Regions from separate parts of the Homo sapiens genome. Here region 2 is linked to region 1. A link means that fine-mapping ties the variant in region 1 to the expression of a gene that starts in the linked region. Tissue or cell type: pancreatic islets. Region 1 holds a variant in brackets; the other region holds the start of a gene. All regions are shown on one strand. Distances are from middle to middle.

Evidence for each region. PIP is the estimated chance that this variant, and not a neighbour inherited with it, causes the effect.
Region 2: IFIT5 starts here. The variant in region 1 is fine-mapped to the expression of IFIT5 in pancreatic islets (PISA, PIP 0.94).

What each region holds. Positions count from the first base shown.
Region 1 is chr10:89,874,518-89,882,627 of GRCh38, reverse strand. All of the region lies in intron 1 of LINC01374 (long intergenic non-protein coding RNA 1374), which reads right to left. Among named protein-coding and RNA genes, the nearest start is that of LINC01374, 25 kb to the right of the region's middle. The variant C/T (reference allele first, on the strand shown) is at 3,116.
Region 2 is chr10:89,411,113-89,419,222 of GRCh38, reverse strand. It overlaps IFIT5 (interferon induced protein with tetratricopeptide repeats 5), which reads right to left and starts at 4,655. Exons shown (of 2, transcript NM_012420.3): 1 at 4,420-4,655; 2 at 1-2,018. The coding sequence starts at 4,424. The coding sequence ends at 575. It also overlaps a transcript of LIPA not described here. RefSeq lists enhancers at 3,609-3,678, 3,779-3,878, 4,489-4,798.

The sequences.
Region 1 (8,110 bases):
AAAACAAAAGACACAGACTGGCTGAATGAATCAAAAAGAAAAAAAAGACCCAATGAACCCAGTGACTTTTTGCCTACAAAAAACAGACTTCACCTGTAAAGACACACATGGACTGAAATTAAGGGGGATGGGAAAAGATAGTCCATGCAAATGGAAAACAAACAAACAAAAAAAAAAAACAAGAGTAATTATACTTATATTATATTAGACTACATAGCTTTCAATAGAAAAACTATAAAAACAGACAAAGAAGGTCATATAGTGAAAAAGCAGTCAATTCAGCAAGAGGACATAACAATTTTAAATATATATGCACCCAACAAAGGAGCACCCAGACATATAAAGGAAATATTATTAGAGCTAAAGAGAGAGAGAGACCTCAGTACAAAAATAACTGTAGACTTCAACACCCCACCTTTGGCGTTGGACAGATCATCCAGAGAGAAAATCGACAAAGAAATATTGGACTCATTATGTACTATAGACCAAATGGACCTAATAGATATTTACAGAACATTTCATCCAATGGCTGCAGAATACACATTCTCCTCAGGACATGGATCATTATCAAGGAGAGACCCTATTTTAGGCCACAAAACAAGTCTTAAAACATTCAAAAATTGAAATCATATCAAGAATCCTCTTTCACCACAGTACAATAAAACTAGAAACCAATAATAAGAGGAATTTTGGAAACTATACAAACACATGGAAATTAAACAATATGCTCCTGAATGACCAGTAATCTAGTGAAGAGATTAAGAAGGAAATTTTAAAATTTCTTGAAACAAGTGATAATGGAAAAACAACATACCAAAACCTATGGAATACAGTGAAGGCAGTAATGAGCTATAAGTGCCTACATCAAAAAGGAAGAAAAATTTTACATAAACAACCTAATGATGCATCTGAAAGAACCAGAAGAGCAAGCCAAATGCAAAGTTAGTGGATGAAAAGAAATAATAAAGATCTGAGTAGAAATAAATAAAGAAAACCATACAAAATATCAACAAAACAAGAAGTTGCTTTTTTGAAAAGAAAAATTGACAGACCTTTGGCTAGCATAGCTAAGAAAAAAGAGAGGACATTGAAATAAATAAAATCAGAGATGAAAAAGGAGACATTACAACCAATACCACAGAAATTCAAAGGATCACCAGAGGCTACTATAAGCAATTATATGACAATAAATTGGAAAACCTTGAAAAAAAATGAATCAATTCCTACACACATGAAACCTACCAAGATTGAACCATAAAGGAATCCAAAACCTGAATAGACCAATAACAAGTAATGAGATCAAAGCTGTAATAAGTAGTCTCCCAGTAAAGAAAAAGAACTAATACCAATTCTACTCAAACTATTCCAAAAAATAGAGGAAGAGTGAATACTTCTAAACTCATTGTATGACACCAGTATTACCTTAATACCAAAACCAGAGTCATATCCGAAAAAGAAAAGTAAAGGCCAATATCCCTATGCAAAAATCCTCAACAAAATGCCAGCAAACCAAATTCAACAACACATTTAAAAGATAACCTATTAGGACCAAGTGGAATTTATCCCAGGGATGCAAGGATGGTTCAACATACACAAAGCCATAAACGTGATACATCACATCACAGAATGAAGGACAAAAACCATATGATCATTCCAACTGACGCTGGAAAAGTATTTAATAAAATTTGTCATCCCGCAAGATAAAAACTCTCAAAACACTGAGTATAGAAGGAACACACCTAAACATAATAAAAGTCACATACAACAGATCCACATCTAGTATTATACAGAATGAGGATAAACTGAAAGCCTTTCCTCTAAGATATGGTATACAAGGTTGCCCACTTTCACCACTGATATTCTACATATTACTGGAAGTCTTAGCTAGAGCAATCAAACAAGAGAAAGAAATAAAGGGCATCAAAATCAGAAAGGAAGAAGTCAAATTAACATTGTTTTTATGATATGATCTTATCTTTGGAAAAACCTAAAAACTCCACACAAAAAAAAACTATTAGAACTGTAATAGTTCTAATAGTCAGTAAAGTCAGTAAAGTTGCAGGATATAAAATCAATATACAAAAACCAGTAGCATTTACATATGCCACAGCAAACAATATGAAAAAGAAATCAAGAAAGTAATCCCATTTATAACAGTTACAAATAAAATTCAATATCCAGTTATTAACCAAAGAAGTGAAAGATCTCCACAATGAAAACTATAAAACACTAATGAAAGAATTTGAAAAGGACACCAAAAAAATGGAAAAATATTACCTGTTCATGGATTGGAAGAATCAATATTGTTAAAACTTTCATACTACCCAAAGCAATCTACAGATTCAATATAATCCCTATCAAAATACTAATGACATTCTTCATAGAAGTAGAAAAAACAATCCTACAATTCATATGGACCACAAAAGACCCAGAATAGCCAAAGCTATCCTAAGCAAAAAGAACAAAACTTGAATCATATTACCTGACTTTAAATTATAGTACTGAACTACAGTAACCAAAATGGCATGGCACTGGCAAAAGAAAAAAAAAAACAGGCATATAGACCAATATAACAGAATACAGAACCCAGAAACATATCTTTACCTCTACAGTGAACTCATTTTTGACAAAGGTGCCAGAACATACACTGGGGAAGGACAATCTCTTCAACAAACTATGCTGAGAAAACTAGATACCCATATGTGGAAGACTGAAACTAGACCCCTATTTCTCACCATATATTAATTTTAAAAAATCAAACAGATAAAAGGCTTAAGTCTAAGACCTCAAACTATGAAACTACTACAAGAAAACGTTGAGGAAAATCTGCAGAACATTGGTTTGAGCAAAAATTTCTTGAGCGATACCACACGAATACAGTCAACCAAAGCAAAAGTGGACAAATGGGATCAACTAGAGTTAAAAAGCTTCTGCACAGCAAAGGAAACAATCAATGCAGTGAAAAGACAAACCACCAAGTGGGAGAAAATATTTCCAAACCCTCCACCTGACAAGGGATTAAGAAACAGAATATATAAGAAGCTCAAACAACTCTATAGAAAAAAAAATCTAATAATCCAATTAAAAAATGGGCAAAAGATCTTAATAGACATTT[C/T]TCAGAAGATGACATACAAATGCCAAACAGGCACATAAAAAGATGTTCAACATCACTGATCATCAGAGTACTGCAAATCAAAACTACAATGAGATATTATCTCACTCCAGTTAAAATGGCTTTTATCCAAAAGACAGGCAATAATAAATGCTTGCAAGAATGTGGAGAAGAGGAAACCCTTGTACACAGGAGTTGGTGGGAATGCAAACTAGTACAACCACAAGAACAGTTTGGTTCTTGTGGTTTTTATCTCAGAAAACTAAAATAGAGATACCATTTGATCCAGTAACATTACTACTAGGTATTTTTTTTTCAAGTTTCAACATGAATTTTATTTTTTTTATTATTATTATACTTTAAATTTTAGGGTACATGTGCACAATGTGCAGGTTAGTTACATATGTATACATGTGCCATGCTGGTGTGCTGCACCCATTAACTTGTCATTTAGCATTAGGTATTTACCCAGAAGAAGGGAAATCAGTATATGGAAGAGATATCTGCATACCCACATTTATTGCAGCACTATTCACAATAAAAAAGTTTGGAAGCAACCTAAATGTTCATCAAAATATAAGCAGATAAAGTAAATGTGGTACATATCCATGATGGAGTACTATTCAGCCATGAAAAAAATGAGATCCTGTCATTTGCAACAACATGGATGAAACTGGAGATCATTATGTTGAGTGAAATAAGCCAGGCATGGAAAGAAACTTCACATGTTCTCACTTACTTGTGGTAGCTAAAGTTTAAAACAATTGAACTCATAGAGATAGAGAGTAGAAGGGTGATTACCAGAGGCTGAGAAGAGTAGTCAGGGAGGGGAGTGGTTAAGTGGGGATAGTTAATGGGTATGCAAAAATAGAAGGACTGAGTAAGACCTAGTGTTTAATAGCACAGCAGGGTGACTATAGTCAATAATAACTTAATCTTGTATTTTAGAATAACTGAAAGTGTATAATTGGATTGTTCATAATGCAAGAGATGAATGCTTGGGATGATAGATGATCCATTTACCTTGATGTGATTGTTTCACATTACATGCCTGTATCAGTATGTTCCATGTACCCCATAGGTATATATACTACTATGTACCCACCAAAATTAAAAATCAAAAACAGAGAAATTAAAACCCAGTCAAAGCAGCTCTGGTCAGAAGGGCTTCCTCCTTAGCATAGGAAGCATAGCAGGCAGGCAGCACACTCCCTAGGATCTAGCAGCTAAGAGCGTGAGATTTGGAGTTCAATTTGAGTTTGTCACCACCATTTATGAGTCTGTGACTTTGTGAAAATTGATTTTCCCTAAGCCTTAGTTTTCTCACCTATTGAAAGGGGATAGTAGGTGTTTTAAAAGCAGCTTAATTCGTGGAGCTCTCATGAAGATTACATGAGCTGGTGACTGGGAGCAGTTACTGTTGCTCTTGCCACAGCTGGACCCTGGGATCACCATGACACCAGTGAATACTGAGTGCACACAATAACAAATACATGGAATGACTGACTGGACTGCTGAGTTTTTTATGTTTTTAATGAAGTCTGACATATGAAAAGGAAAGTGCGTAAGTTCTGAGATTAATTATCAGAGTGAATACACCTATACACACCTATAGCCACCATCTTAGTCAAGAAACAGGACATGGCCAGCACCCGGAAAGTCCCTTTAACCCCTCCCAATTATACTTCCTCCCTCTCTCTAGAAGTTAATGTCCTAAATTCCAACAACATAGATTAGTTTTCCTACTTTTCAACTTTGTGTAAATGGAATCATAGTGTCTATTCTTTCTGTGCCTGGATTCTTTCATTCAACACTATAGTTGAGAGATTTGAGAGATTCTCCATGATGTCCTATGAGGTGGTAGTTTGTTCACTTTGAATAATGTACTGTTACATAAATTTTTCTTTCTACCATGGGTGGATATTTGGGTTGTTTCCACGTTGGAGCTGTCATGAAAAGTATATTGTAATGAACTTTCTTGTATATTTTTTGAAGTGGGGCCTCAATCAGAAGGATTTGGGCCTCCTTTGTACATTTCTTGATGTCCTTATGTACATACACATTAATGTTGAGTGTTCTACCTAGAGGATTGCTGTCCAGCCTTAATGAATAACATTAAAAAGTTTTCCAAAATAATTGAACCAATTTGTATTTACTTGAAACTACTGCCACAATTTTTATTTGTTTAATAATGCACAGAAACTAGTCCCTTAATTCAATAAATACAAAGCTCTCCTAGAATAGGATTTCCCAAAGTGTGGAATACAAGTCCTGCCAGAGACTCTGAAAATTAAAATAGGTTTTTTGGTTCAAATAATTTTGAAAATCATTGCATATTATATCATCTTCTCAGAGAATGTACCTTAACACATTAAAATCTCTGAGAAGCCCTTTATTTAAAAATAATAGGCTAAGTTTGTTTGAATGATAAGTAGTTGCTTTGGCCCACAGAGCCCTTTTGAGGCTGTAACACCTGTAGATAACACAAAGATGCAGCCAGTGAATGGATTCAGACAGCAGGAAAGGGACAGCCATCTTTTGGTGCTGTAAAGCTACAGTGCTTAATAACTGAGATGCCAATTCCCTCTTTGAGGATGGTGGTCTATTATTATTGGCACAATAATAATCTGAAAGGTGGTAATCTCTTTTATCTTTAAAAGTTTTTTGAGGTTTTCTAATATTTGACATGCCTTTTCAGCTGTTGTGGATTAACCCCTAAATCAACAAATAATTACTGGTGGTCTGCTGTGCACCCAGAATTGCACTAGGTTTGTGGAATAGATAAGATATTGCTTGCTTATTGAAAATTACTTATAGTCTAGTTAGTGAATGCATGTGTAGTTAATACAATCACAAGTTTATCTTTTCTCAATTTTTTTTGGTAGGGATGGGGTCTCACTATTTTGCCCAGACTGGCCTCAAGATCTCCTGGCCTCAAGAGATCCTCCCACCTTGGCCCCCCAGAGCTCTGGGATTACAGGAATGAGCCATGTGCCAGGCCAAAAGTTTATATTTTATGAAACAGAAGTTACCCCCAGTACCTGATTAAACTTTTTGTTATTTCTGATCTGATTGGCTAAAAATCAGGTATCTGATTTTAATTTGCATTCCCCTGATTACTAGTGAGACTAAGCCTCTTTTAATGTTTATTGGCCATTCTGATTTCCTCTTCTGTGAATTCACATCACCCACTTTTCTTTGAATTTCTGTTTTATACAGACTTTATACAATCATAAAAAACAATATTAGCAAATTATTACAAGTATATACTATCTCACAAATATAGTAAAGAGATTCTGGATACCAGTTTTTTGTTTTGTTGTAAATATCTTCTCTGAGTCTGTGGCTCATCTTTTAACTATGTTTATGGTGTATTATCCTGTATAGTAGTTATATAGTTAAAGGTGATACAATATATTTCTCCTCTCTTTTGTGAGATTTTTTGTTACTTGTTTATGAAGCCTTTCCCTATAAAGAAGTCATATATAAATATATTCTGCTATTAAAAAAGAAAACGGAGCAATGAAAACAATTTAAAATAAAGCATAGATAGAAAAAAATGAAATAAATAGATCATCAGTTACTGGGACATTATAAAGCAGTGTAACATATATATTAGGAGTACCATAATGGGAAGCATGAAGGGAAAAAAAAATATTATATAATACAATTTCTGAAAACCAGTGACAAAGAGAAAATCTTAAAAGCAGCCAGAGCACAAAGACAGAAGATGTACCGAAACACAAAGACGGACAACAGACCTCATGTGAAAAACTATGGAAGCAAGAAGACTGTAGAGTAACACCTTTAAAGTATTGAAAAGAATGCACTGGTGAGAAGGGCTCACTTCCAGTGAGGTCAGTGACAACTATCCTTTATAAAGTTCACTGTAGGAAACGGTGTCATAGAATCATGTTTCTTAGTGTCAATAGGAATGACAGGACTATAAAATGGTAGGGTCCCAGTGGCAGTACCTAAATGTAAGAGGAAAAGTGAACATTATTACCACTATGAAGAGCAAGGTCAGAGTGGCAGCCAGTACCTTGACCTTCAAGGTCTGTGTTAATGGCCAGTAGGTCATGGTGTTCCCAGGGGCAAGATAGATAGACAGCTTTTTATGGTGTTGTCTGTCAACTGAAAAAAAAAAAATCAGAAACTGGCCAGCAGAAAGTTGGTATCAGCTGTCACTAAAAAATCAAGTTACCACACCCATTTTCCTATTGATAGATCCAGAGCATATTGATTGAAAAAGAAGCTGAACCTCCTTGAAGAACCCTGGAATGCCAACACAAGTAGACACACTAAAAATCCCTCCAATCCTTTCTCAGTGGGTCTGTGACCAGAGTAAATGAATGGTGGTGGGGGCAGGAAGGGAAATGAGACCTTTTCAGGATTTGGGATGCAAGATCTGGGTCACACAAGGGGACCTGAAATACACTGACCTGCTTATTAGAGTAGGCACATATGGAAGCCAGGTGATATATGACTTTCTGACCCAATCCTCCTCACAGAGAGTCTAGACCCATCCTGTGGCTATTTCTCCAATACCTCAGGGTATAGTTGGAACTAGATATACCCAGTGCCTAACAGAAAGTTCACATTGGTTTTTCGTTTTGTAAAATAAGGGCCACCATGCTAGGAAGAGCCAAACAGAAGCTCATGTAATTGCTCTCCCCAGACAAAATACCAAATCAAAATCAATACTATATTGTAGGAGTACCTTCAGAGATTGAAGCCATCATCAAAATTTAAAGGATGCAAAGGTGGTAGTCACATGATAGCTCCACTTAACTTCACTGTAAAGCACATTTAAAAAATGAATCATGTTAAATGACAGTGGAACATTGTGGTACCTGCAATTACAGCTGCCATGAGGAATGAATTATCCTAATTGGCACAAAACAACAAGGATTCTGGAACTTATTATGAAGTTCTTGATGTGGCATATGAGCTTCTGTCAATCCCTGTTGATATGGAATTCAAAATTGCTTTGCTTTT
Region 2 (8,110 bases), 460 kb after region 1:
AGTTTTTTCTTTATTGAAGTCACTAGAGATGACAAACTTTTTTATTATAAACTTTTTTCCAACAAAAAAGATATTTTAGGTGACTATTAGATTGATAGCTAAATATCCTCATCAAAGTCAAAACATCTGTAACTAAAAAGTGCTGTCTTTTGCAAGCTACACAATTAAGAGCTTAACTATCAATAATGTAATTTTGTACTCCTGGAAGAGTATTCCTGATCTAGGTATCAAAGGTTTACGTAGGAATATATTTACTATATAATATGAGAAATTCAAAGAGCAGAGATAAAAAGCACAGATCTAATGGCCATACCATTTTTAGAAGTTACAATAGCTAGAATATTGCTATTTCTCAATGGATTATAGTATTTTAATTAAAAAGAAAAAAAGAAAGAAAACCGCACAAGATTCATCATAATGCATATAAAGTATTTAGCACAATGCTTGGTACACAATAACTATTCAATAAATATTAGCTCTATAATAAACAAGGGATTAAAATAATAAAAAAAAAACAAACAGGAGAACCCAAAATGAAGGGAAAAACTTAGAGCTAATTTCCTAGAGTATGTATTTAAATGGAAAGTCGGAGCTCACAGAGAGCAGTCAGGAATTCTGCATTTTCTGGATCTATCTTTTGTGCCTTCTCATAGTACTCAGCAGCTTGCCTCTTTTCTCCTTCCAGCTTGTAAACAAACCCTAGGGCACTTAAACTCTGCACATCTAAAGCATTGTGACAAAGTCTCTTGGTAGACAATTTCTTCAGAGCACTTGTCAGTTTGGTGCGAAGGGGTGATCTGTCTTTGACCTTTAAGGCTTCTAAATAATGATGGATGGCAGTATTTTCTGATTTACGGTGAAATTCCTGAAAGCGGCCATAGTGGTAATGGATCTGATGTTTGTGATCATCGGTTATGTTCTCCAGACGAAGAGCTTTCCGGAAAATGTCCTCAGCATTGCTATACTGGCCTCCTTCAGCGTACATGTTGGCCAGGTCTGTGTAGGCAAATGCAAACATAGAGTCTCGTTCCATGGCTGCTTTGAAATGAAATATAGCAGATGAAATCAGCTCATCAACCTTTAGTTTATCCTTTCCTTTAGGTCTGTTGTGTGTGGCCTTCTTGATTTGGATCATTTGTGCCCTGTAGCAAAGTCCCATCTGGTGATGCAGGAAAGAAGAAGTTGGTGTCACCTCCAAGGCCTTTTTTAAAAGTTCGAGAGCTTTGTTCCAGGAATTTTTTCTCCTATAGAACTTGGCTGCATAACGAAGGACGTAAGGCTGGGATGATATTTGGTCCAGGATTTCTTCAATATACTTTTCCCCTTCAGCTTCTGCATGTACATCTTGAAGCTTCAGTGCCAGAAAAACCTTAATATAGCTGTTATCTGGGTTCAGGGTAACAGCCTTTCTCAAAGGCCCCAGAGAAAAGCTCTTTACAGACCCTTCTCTATCAGAATCATCCAGCCGATACACTGTGATAGCATAGCCGATGTTAAATTCTGGATTGTCAGGCTCCACTTCCAGAGCCTTCTCAAAAGCCGCTTTAGCCTTTTGATAATACTTTCCTCCAAATTTCAAGAGTGCCCAGCCTTTCTCACAGTCAGTCTCAGGACACTCCAACTTGTAGTTAGAAGGACTGGACAATTTCTTACAGACATTCCCTATCTTACCTGTATACTTCTGAGCTTCTTCAAGCTGGTCCATGTGATAATACACCCAGGCATAGTTTCCCCAAGTGACCAGGCTTCGTACTTCTTCTTTGTCTGAGTGTTCTTGCTGGATTATTTCTTCTGCTTGTTCCAAGCACTCAAGGGCGTCTTTATTTTGGCCTTTTAGGTGTTTCACATAGGCCAATAGGTTATAAAGAGCAAGTCTAGATTTTGTGGTAAGAAATTCAAGCTGTTGCCCAATTGTATCTTCTACCTCAAACAGATCAATGTCTTCCTTAAGTAAATTCCATGTAAAATGACATTCTAACTCCAACAGAATGGCCTTCAAGGTGTCCTTACGAATTTCACTGTCAAAGATAAAATACTTTTTAATTTTTGAAGAAATACAAGAAATAATTTTCTAAACCTTAAATATTGTTCTTTGCATAACAACTAATTTTATCCCTATTTGATCTTACAGTTAAAACATAAGTTTCCCATAACTTTATACTAGAGTTTCTTCTATATACAGTTATGTCCTAGAAATATTTCATTTAAATTCTCACTATTTATTGCAAAAACAGTTCTGGAGAGATGACAGAGCTTTCTGTATTACATGTATCTATTTCCTTTTGGCAATCACTAAACCATTGAAAATTAGGAATGAATATATACATATTCAATAATTAATATGAAAATTCCATTTTTGTATTATGAGTACTGATCCTGACTAGGAAACCTGGTAAAATTGCTCCTTGGTAATTGTTCCTTTCTCTAGTGTAATTGTACCAAAAATATGGGCAAGACATGCCATGTCCTTACAGCCTGCTTAAATCCACAACAACATGGCTTTACCAGCCCCCTGCCTAAAACAAACACCTGTTTTGAAGGTCTCTACCAGCCCAGCCCAAGGAGGATGAGGAGGGCTGCTCAGGTATTATGGATTTGGTTGTAAGATCTCAAAGGGACATTCAATCAGGTACTGACGTGGTTTGTCCAGGCTCTGGAATTTATGCACAACTGGACACCATGAGAATTTTTATTGTTTAAACTTTGTCTACTTAATTTTGTAACTTTGTCTTTGGGAAGCTAATAAGAGAGAAGCTATTGCATCAGAAGAGGTAACACGTATCTTTCGGTAATTCTGTTCTTCTGCTAGGAAGAAGCAGACTTTCATTGTCCTTGGGAGACAGTCCCCAATGGGGCTGAGCCCTTTTCCTCCCCATCCTGCATATATACGGTGCACGCCACCGTCTTTTTCTGTTTTTTGTTGTTGTTGTTGTTTTGTTGTTGTTGTTGTTGTCAAGCCCCTTCCTGATAGCACTCTCCTTTCTTACAAATGTTAGATGTGGCCAGGCGTTGTGGCTCACGCCTGTAATCCCAGCACTTTGGGAGGCTGAGGCGGGTGGACCACGAGGTCAGGAATTCGAGACCAGCCCGGTCAACATGGTGAAACCCGCGTCTCTACTAAAGATACAAAAAATTAGCCAGGCGTGGTGGCACACGCCTGTAATCCCAGCTACACGGGAAGCTGAGGCAGGGGAATGGCTTGAACCCGGGAGGCGGAGGTTGCAGTGAGCCGAGATGGAGCCATTACACTACAGCCTGGGTGACAGGGCGAGACTCCGTCTCAAAAATAAAGTTAGATGTGTGGGTGGCACTTAAACTTTTTTTTTAAACTTATAATGGGAATAATTAACATTTATTGTGCAAGTATTATGTGCTAAGCAGTCAACTGATAGGATTTATTACTGTCCTTTTCCACAGTCCCAAGAGATGGACACCATTAATTTTTACAAATAAGGAACAGACTCACAGAGTTTGAGAAACTTTGGGATCACTCAACTAGTAGGAGTTCAGTCCGGATTTAGAACAAGGGACTATCTGCTTTTAGAGCCCAAGACCTTAACATCTCATTCCTCAACTCATTAAATGCGGAAGGTTCACTAACCACGTGCAGGGCGGGGTGCTAGCCCCTGGGGATACAAAATGATCAAGAAAAGGACGCCATCATACTAAATCAGTAAAGGAAACAGATAAAGAAATCCTCATAAAACAGCGGATTGGGTGGGACGATAACAATCTGTGCTTGGTACAGAGGTAGCTCCTGGGAAGGGAAGAACTCAGACCCAGAAATCAGAAACGCAAACTGGCAGTGGCAGGCGAACCTGACGCCTGCAGGGCTGCGGCGAAACCGCGTATGCCACACCGAGGGAATGGCAGCTGGAAAGAGAGGCACGCGACAGGCCTAAGGAGACCCGTGGCACGTAGCAGCTGCCCCCGGAACAGCGCCTGGGGGCTCTGCAGGCGCTGACCAGTTTCCCGGAGGCGGCGGCCGCGGACCCAGCACGGTCACCGTCGCCGCTGCCGAGAAGAGCCGTCGGGTCGCGATGGGTGGACAGGCCTTCCGGGGGAGCGTCGCCCGGCACATACCCTGACAGTCCCGACCGCAGACGCCAGGGATGGGACAGGCTCCCGGGGAGCATCTCCTGTTCCTCCTCCCTGACCGGCCTTCTTAGGCGCTGGGGAGGGGCCGGACTCCCGAGAAGCGTCCACTCGGCCACCCTCCCCGGCAGGCCCGACTTCAGACGCCGCGCGCCGGGACAGAGCGCCCGGGGAGGGTCCCCAACGCAGATGCCCGGTTGCTGGGCGCGAGGGGCTCGGCCCCTGAAAAGGCCGCAGAACTGCGCTGGAAATGAATAAAAGCAGCCCGGTTTGAAACCAAGGCCGACGCAGGGCTTGGGAGGAGAGGCAAAGGAAAACCCTTACCTCATGATGGCAGCGCTCTGCAGGCCGTCCGGGCGGCGCAGTCCCTCGGATCGCTCTCTCCTCAGCACCGGGGACCGCGGGAAGCCGCGCGGTGGGCGTGCGCGTGCGCGTGCGCGCGCCAGGCCTCTGCAGCCCCTGGACTCGGCCGCGCGGCGTGTCTTTGTTAAAGGAGAGACCCCAGCCCCAGCAAGAACAGGAAACTGGAGATTGAATCAGATGCCGAGCGCTCAGAAACTGAAACTTAAGAAATCGAAACTAAACGTAAGCTTCAGAAACCGAAACTTAATAGAAGAGCTCAAGAGCCGCGGCCAGACGTTTGCGGAGTCCAGGGTCTTTCGGAGTTGAATTTGCAGCTGGGCTCCTTCACTTTGGTCTCGGCTTTTATCTGCCTCCCTGAGTACGCTGAGTTCGCATGCTGCCCGTGTAACTGTTTGTTTGTTTGTTTGTTTGTTTGAGATAGCGTCTCACTGTGTCACCCAGTCGTGATCTCAAGGGATGCGCCCGCCTCTGCCTCCCAAGGTGCTGGGATTACAGGCGGAAACTTAAGTCCCTGCTTCCACTCCAGTCTTTTGATTCAACAAGCAACACTGCAATGCTATACATCTATGCTGTTATTTCTGTTGGGTGTAAACTGAGAAATTTGGAGCTAAAATCTATATACATTTTAAGTTTTGACGGATATTGCCAAATAGCTTTAAAAATCCACTCTTACCCACAATTGTAGGAGACTGCTTCTCTTCCATACCTTCGCCAATGGTGCTTTGTAATAAGGACCCAATAAAGACAAGAGTGGTATTGGGGATCTAGGCAGAAAATGTCAAACACCCATACCTTAAACATTTTGTCCCCTTTGAATTCATTCAGCAAATATTGACAAACAACTGTAAGAGCCAGACTTTGTTCAAAGTACTGTCAATATAACAATAAAGAAAACAGACACGGGCCTTACCCTTATTGAGTTAATGTCTGTATTCAAAACCTCAATATCCTGTCCATAATTCATCTTTTGCATTGATTTTGGTTTTTTTTTTTTTTTTGAGACAGGGTCTCACTCTGTCACTCAGGTTGGAGTGCAGTGGTGAGATGACAGCTCACTGCAGCCTCAACCTTCATGGCTCAAGCGATCCTCCCACCTCAGCCTCCTGAGTGGCTGGGACTATATGCGTGCACCACTATGTCGGGCTAATTAATTTATTTTTTGTAGAGGCGGGGTTTTGCCATGTTGCCCAGGCTGGTCTCCAACACCTGGGCACAAATATTTTTCTAAACCTTAAATATTGTTCCGCCCATCGTGGCCTCCCAAAATGCTGGGATTACAGGCATGAGCCACTATGCTTGGCCTGATTTTGAATTTTTAAAAACATATTGCATTGAAATATTGTCTACCTTGATCACTGAGCTTCTGGCACCCCACCCCTCAAAACTTAGTGCCTGAAGCGAGTGCCTCATTTAAAGCAATCACTTCTAACAGTTGTACTGTCTTATACAGAAACTGCTGGTCACCTGTGGCTATTAAGAACCTGATTTTTAATTTAATATAAATTTAAAAACTGATAAGTTAATAGAAAACTTACATTTGGAATAACTTAGGTATACGAATCTGCTTTTTATAAGTTGCAAATTTTATGAACTCTAAATACAGAGCAAGTATTTCCAGTGATTATCCTCAGCAAACTAATGCAGGAACAGAAACCAAACACTGCATGTTCTCACTTGTAAGTGGGAGCTAAATGATGAGAACACACGGACACAGTGGGGAACAACACACACTGGGGCTTGTTGGAGTTGGGGGTGGTGGGAGGGAGAGCATCAAGAAGTATAGCTAAGTGATGCTGAGCTTAATACGTAGGTGATGGTGTGTCCGGAATTGGTTCCTTCCAGTAGGTTTTTGGTCTTGGTGACTTCAAGAATGAAGCTGCGGACTCTCGCTGTGAGTGCTACAGTTGTTAAAGATGGCGTGTCTGGAGTTTGTTCCTTTCGATGTTCAGATGTGTCTGGAGTTTCTTCCTTCTGGTGAGTTCGTGGTCTTGCTGACTTCAGGAGTGCAGCTGCAGACCTTCACAGTGAGTGTTACAGATCTTAAAGGTGGCGCGTCCGGAGTTGTTCGTTCCTCCCGGTGGGTTCGTGGTTTCACTGACTTCAGGAGTAAAGCCGTAGACCTTTGTGGTGAGTGTTACAGCTCATAAAGGCAGTGTGGACCCAAAGAGTGAGCAGCAGCAAGATTCGTTGCGAAGAGCGAAAGAACAAAACTTCCACGACGTGGAAGCAGACCCGAGCAGGTTGCCGCTGCTGGCTGGGGTGGCCTGCTTTTATTCCCTTATTTGGCTCCACCCATATCCTGCTGATTGGTCCATTTTACAGAGAGCTGATTGGTCCACTTTACAAAGTGCTGATTGGTCCATTTTACAGAGTGCTGATTGGTCCATTTTACAGAGTGCTGATTGGTCCATTTTGACAGAGTGCTGATTGGTGCGTTTACAAACTTTTAGCTACACACAGAGTGCTGATTGGTGCGTTTACAATCCTTTAGCTAGACAGAAAAGTTCTCTGAGTCCCCACCTGACCCAGAAGCCCAGCCAGCTTCACCTCTCAATCCCCCCTCTAAACAGGACACCCCAATTGCTGATGGGAATTTGGCTGATGACTGCTCTAGCTACTTTCTGCTGGATAGGGGCGAAGAAGGGGCCCTGTAGGTGTAGTGTCCTCCAGAGGGGAACTCTTTAGGCCAGTGGAAGGGCCAGCAGGTCAGTCCAGGGGTCCTCGGTAGAAGTTGTTAGTTGAACTCATTTGGGGTTCCATTTGTAAGACCATCTGTAGCTTGAGGGCCTCAATTCTAGAGGAAACAAATTTGACAAGAAGGTTAAAAACACAGGGCCCAAAGACAAGTAACAGCAAGATGGCTGCCACAGGACCTAGAAAGGGGAGAAGCCATGTTGCCCAACTCCAGAGGTTGGTATAAGAGTTTGAAAGGTGTTGTCTGATTTCAGAAGCCTTTTCCTGTAAACACCGGGTGGCATCTCGTGCTATCCCTGACTGGTTAGTGTAAAAACAACACTCTTCCCCTAAGAAGCTGCACAGTCCTCCTTTCTCAGCAGTGAGGAGGTCTAGGCCTTGGCGATTTTGGAGAGTCGCTGCTGCCAAAGAGTCTGTTTGGGATTGTAGAGTAAGGATAGATTTCATTATTTCATGCAAACTGTCTGAGAAATCCTTTGAGAGTGTATGGTAGTAGGATAATGCATGTTACACTGTTAACTTTTAGCAAACTTTACGTTAGTTGAAAACCTTGTAAGTTTGGGATTTCAATTATTCTTTGCTATTAGTAAGACCTCGTTCAGTCCATATTAACTTAGAATTGGTATAGATGGCTCCTTCCTGATTCTGTAAGTATTTTAAGGTTTGGCTGAGTGCAAACAGCTGACACATTTGAGCAGACCAATTATTAGGCAATTTTCCTAACACTGCTTCTACAAGAGTTTCCTTATTATTTACTGAATACCCATTGTGTTTTTTTTTTCCTTAATTGCCCAGGAGGAACCATCTATCCGTCCTGTCCTGAAGGGAGTTCCTCCTAGATCTGGTCAGACCTTTGTATGGGAATTAATTAAGATTTAGATCCCCTGTTAGGAAACCTGCTGGGTAAGGATTTTTGATAGGAAGGCTACTGGTTGTCAGTGGCCTCAGTGCTTTCAGG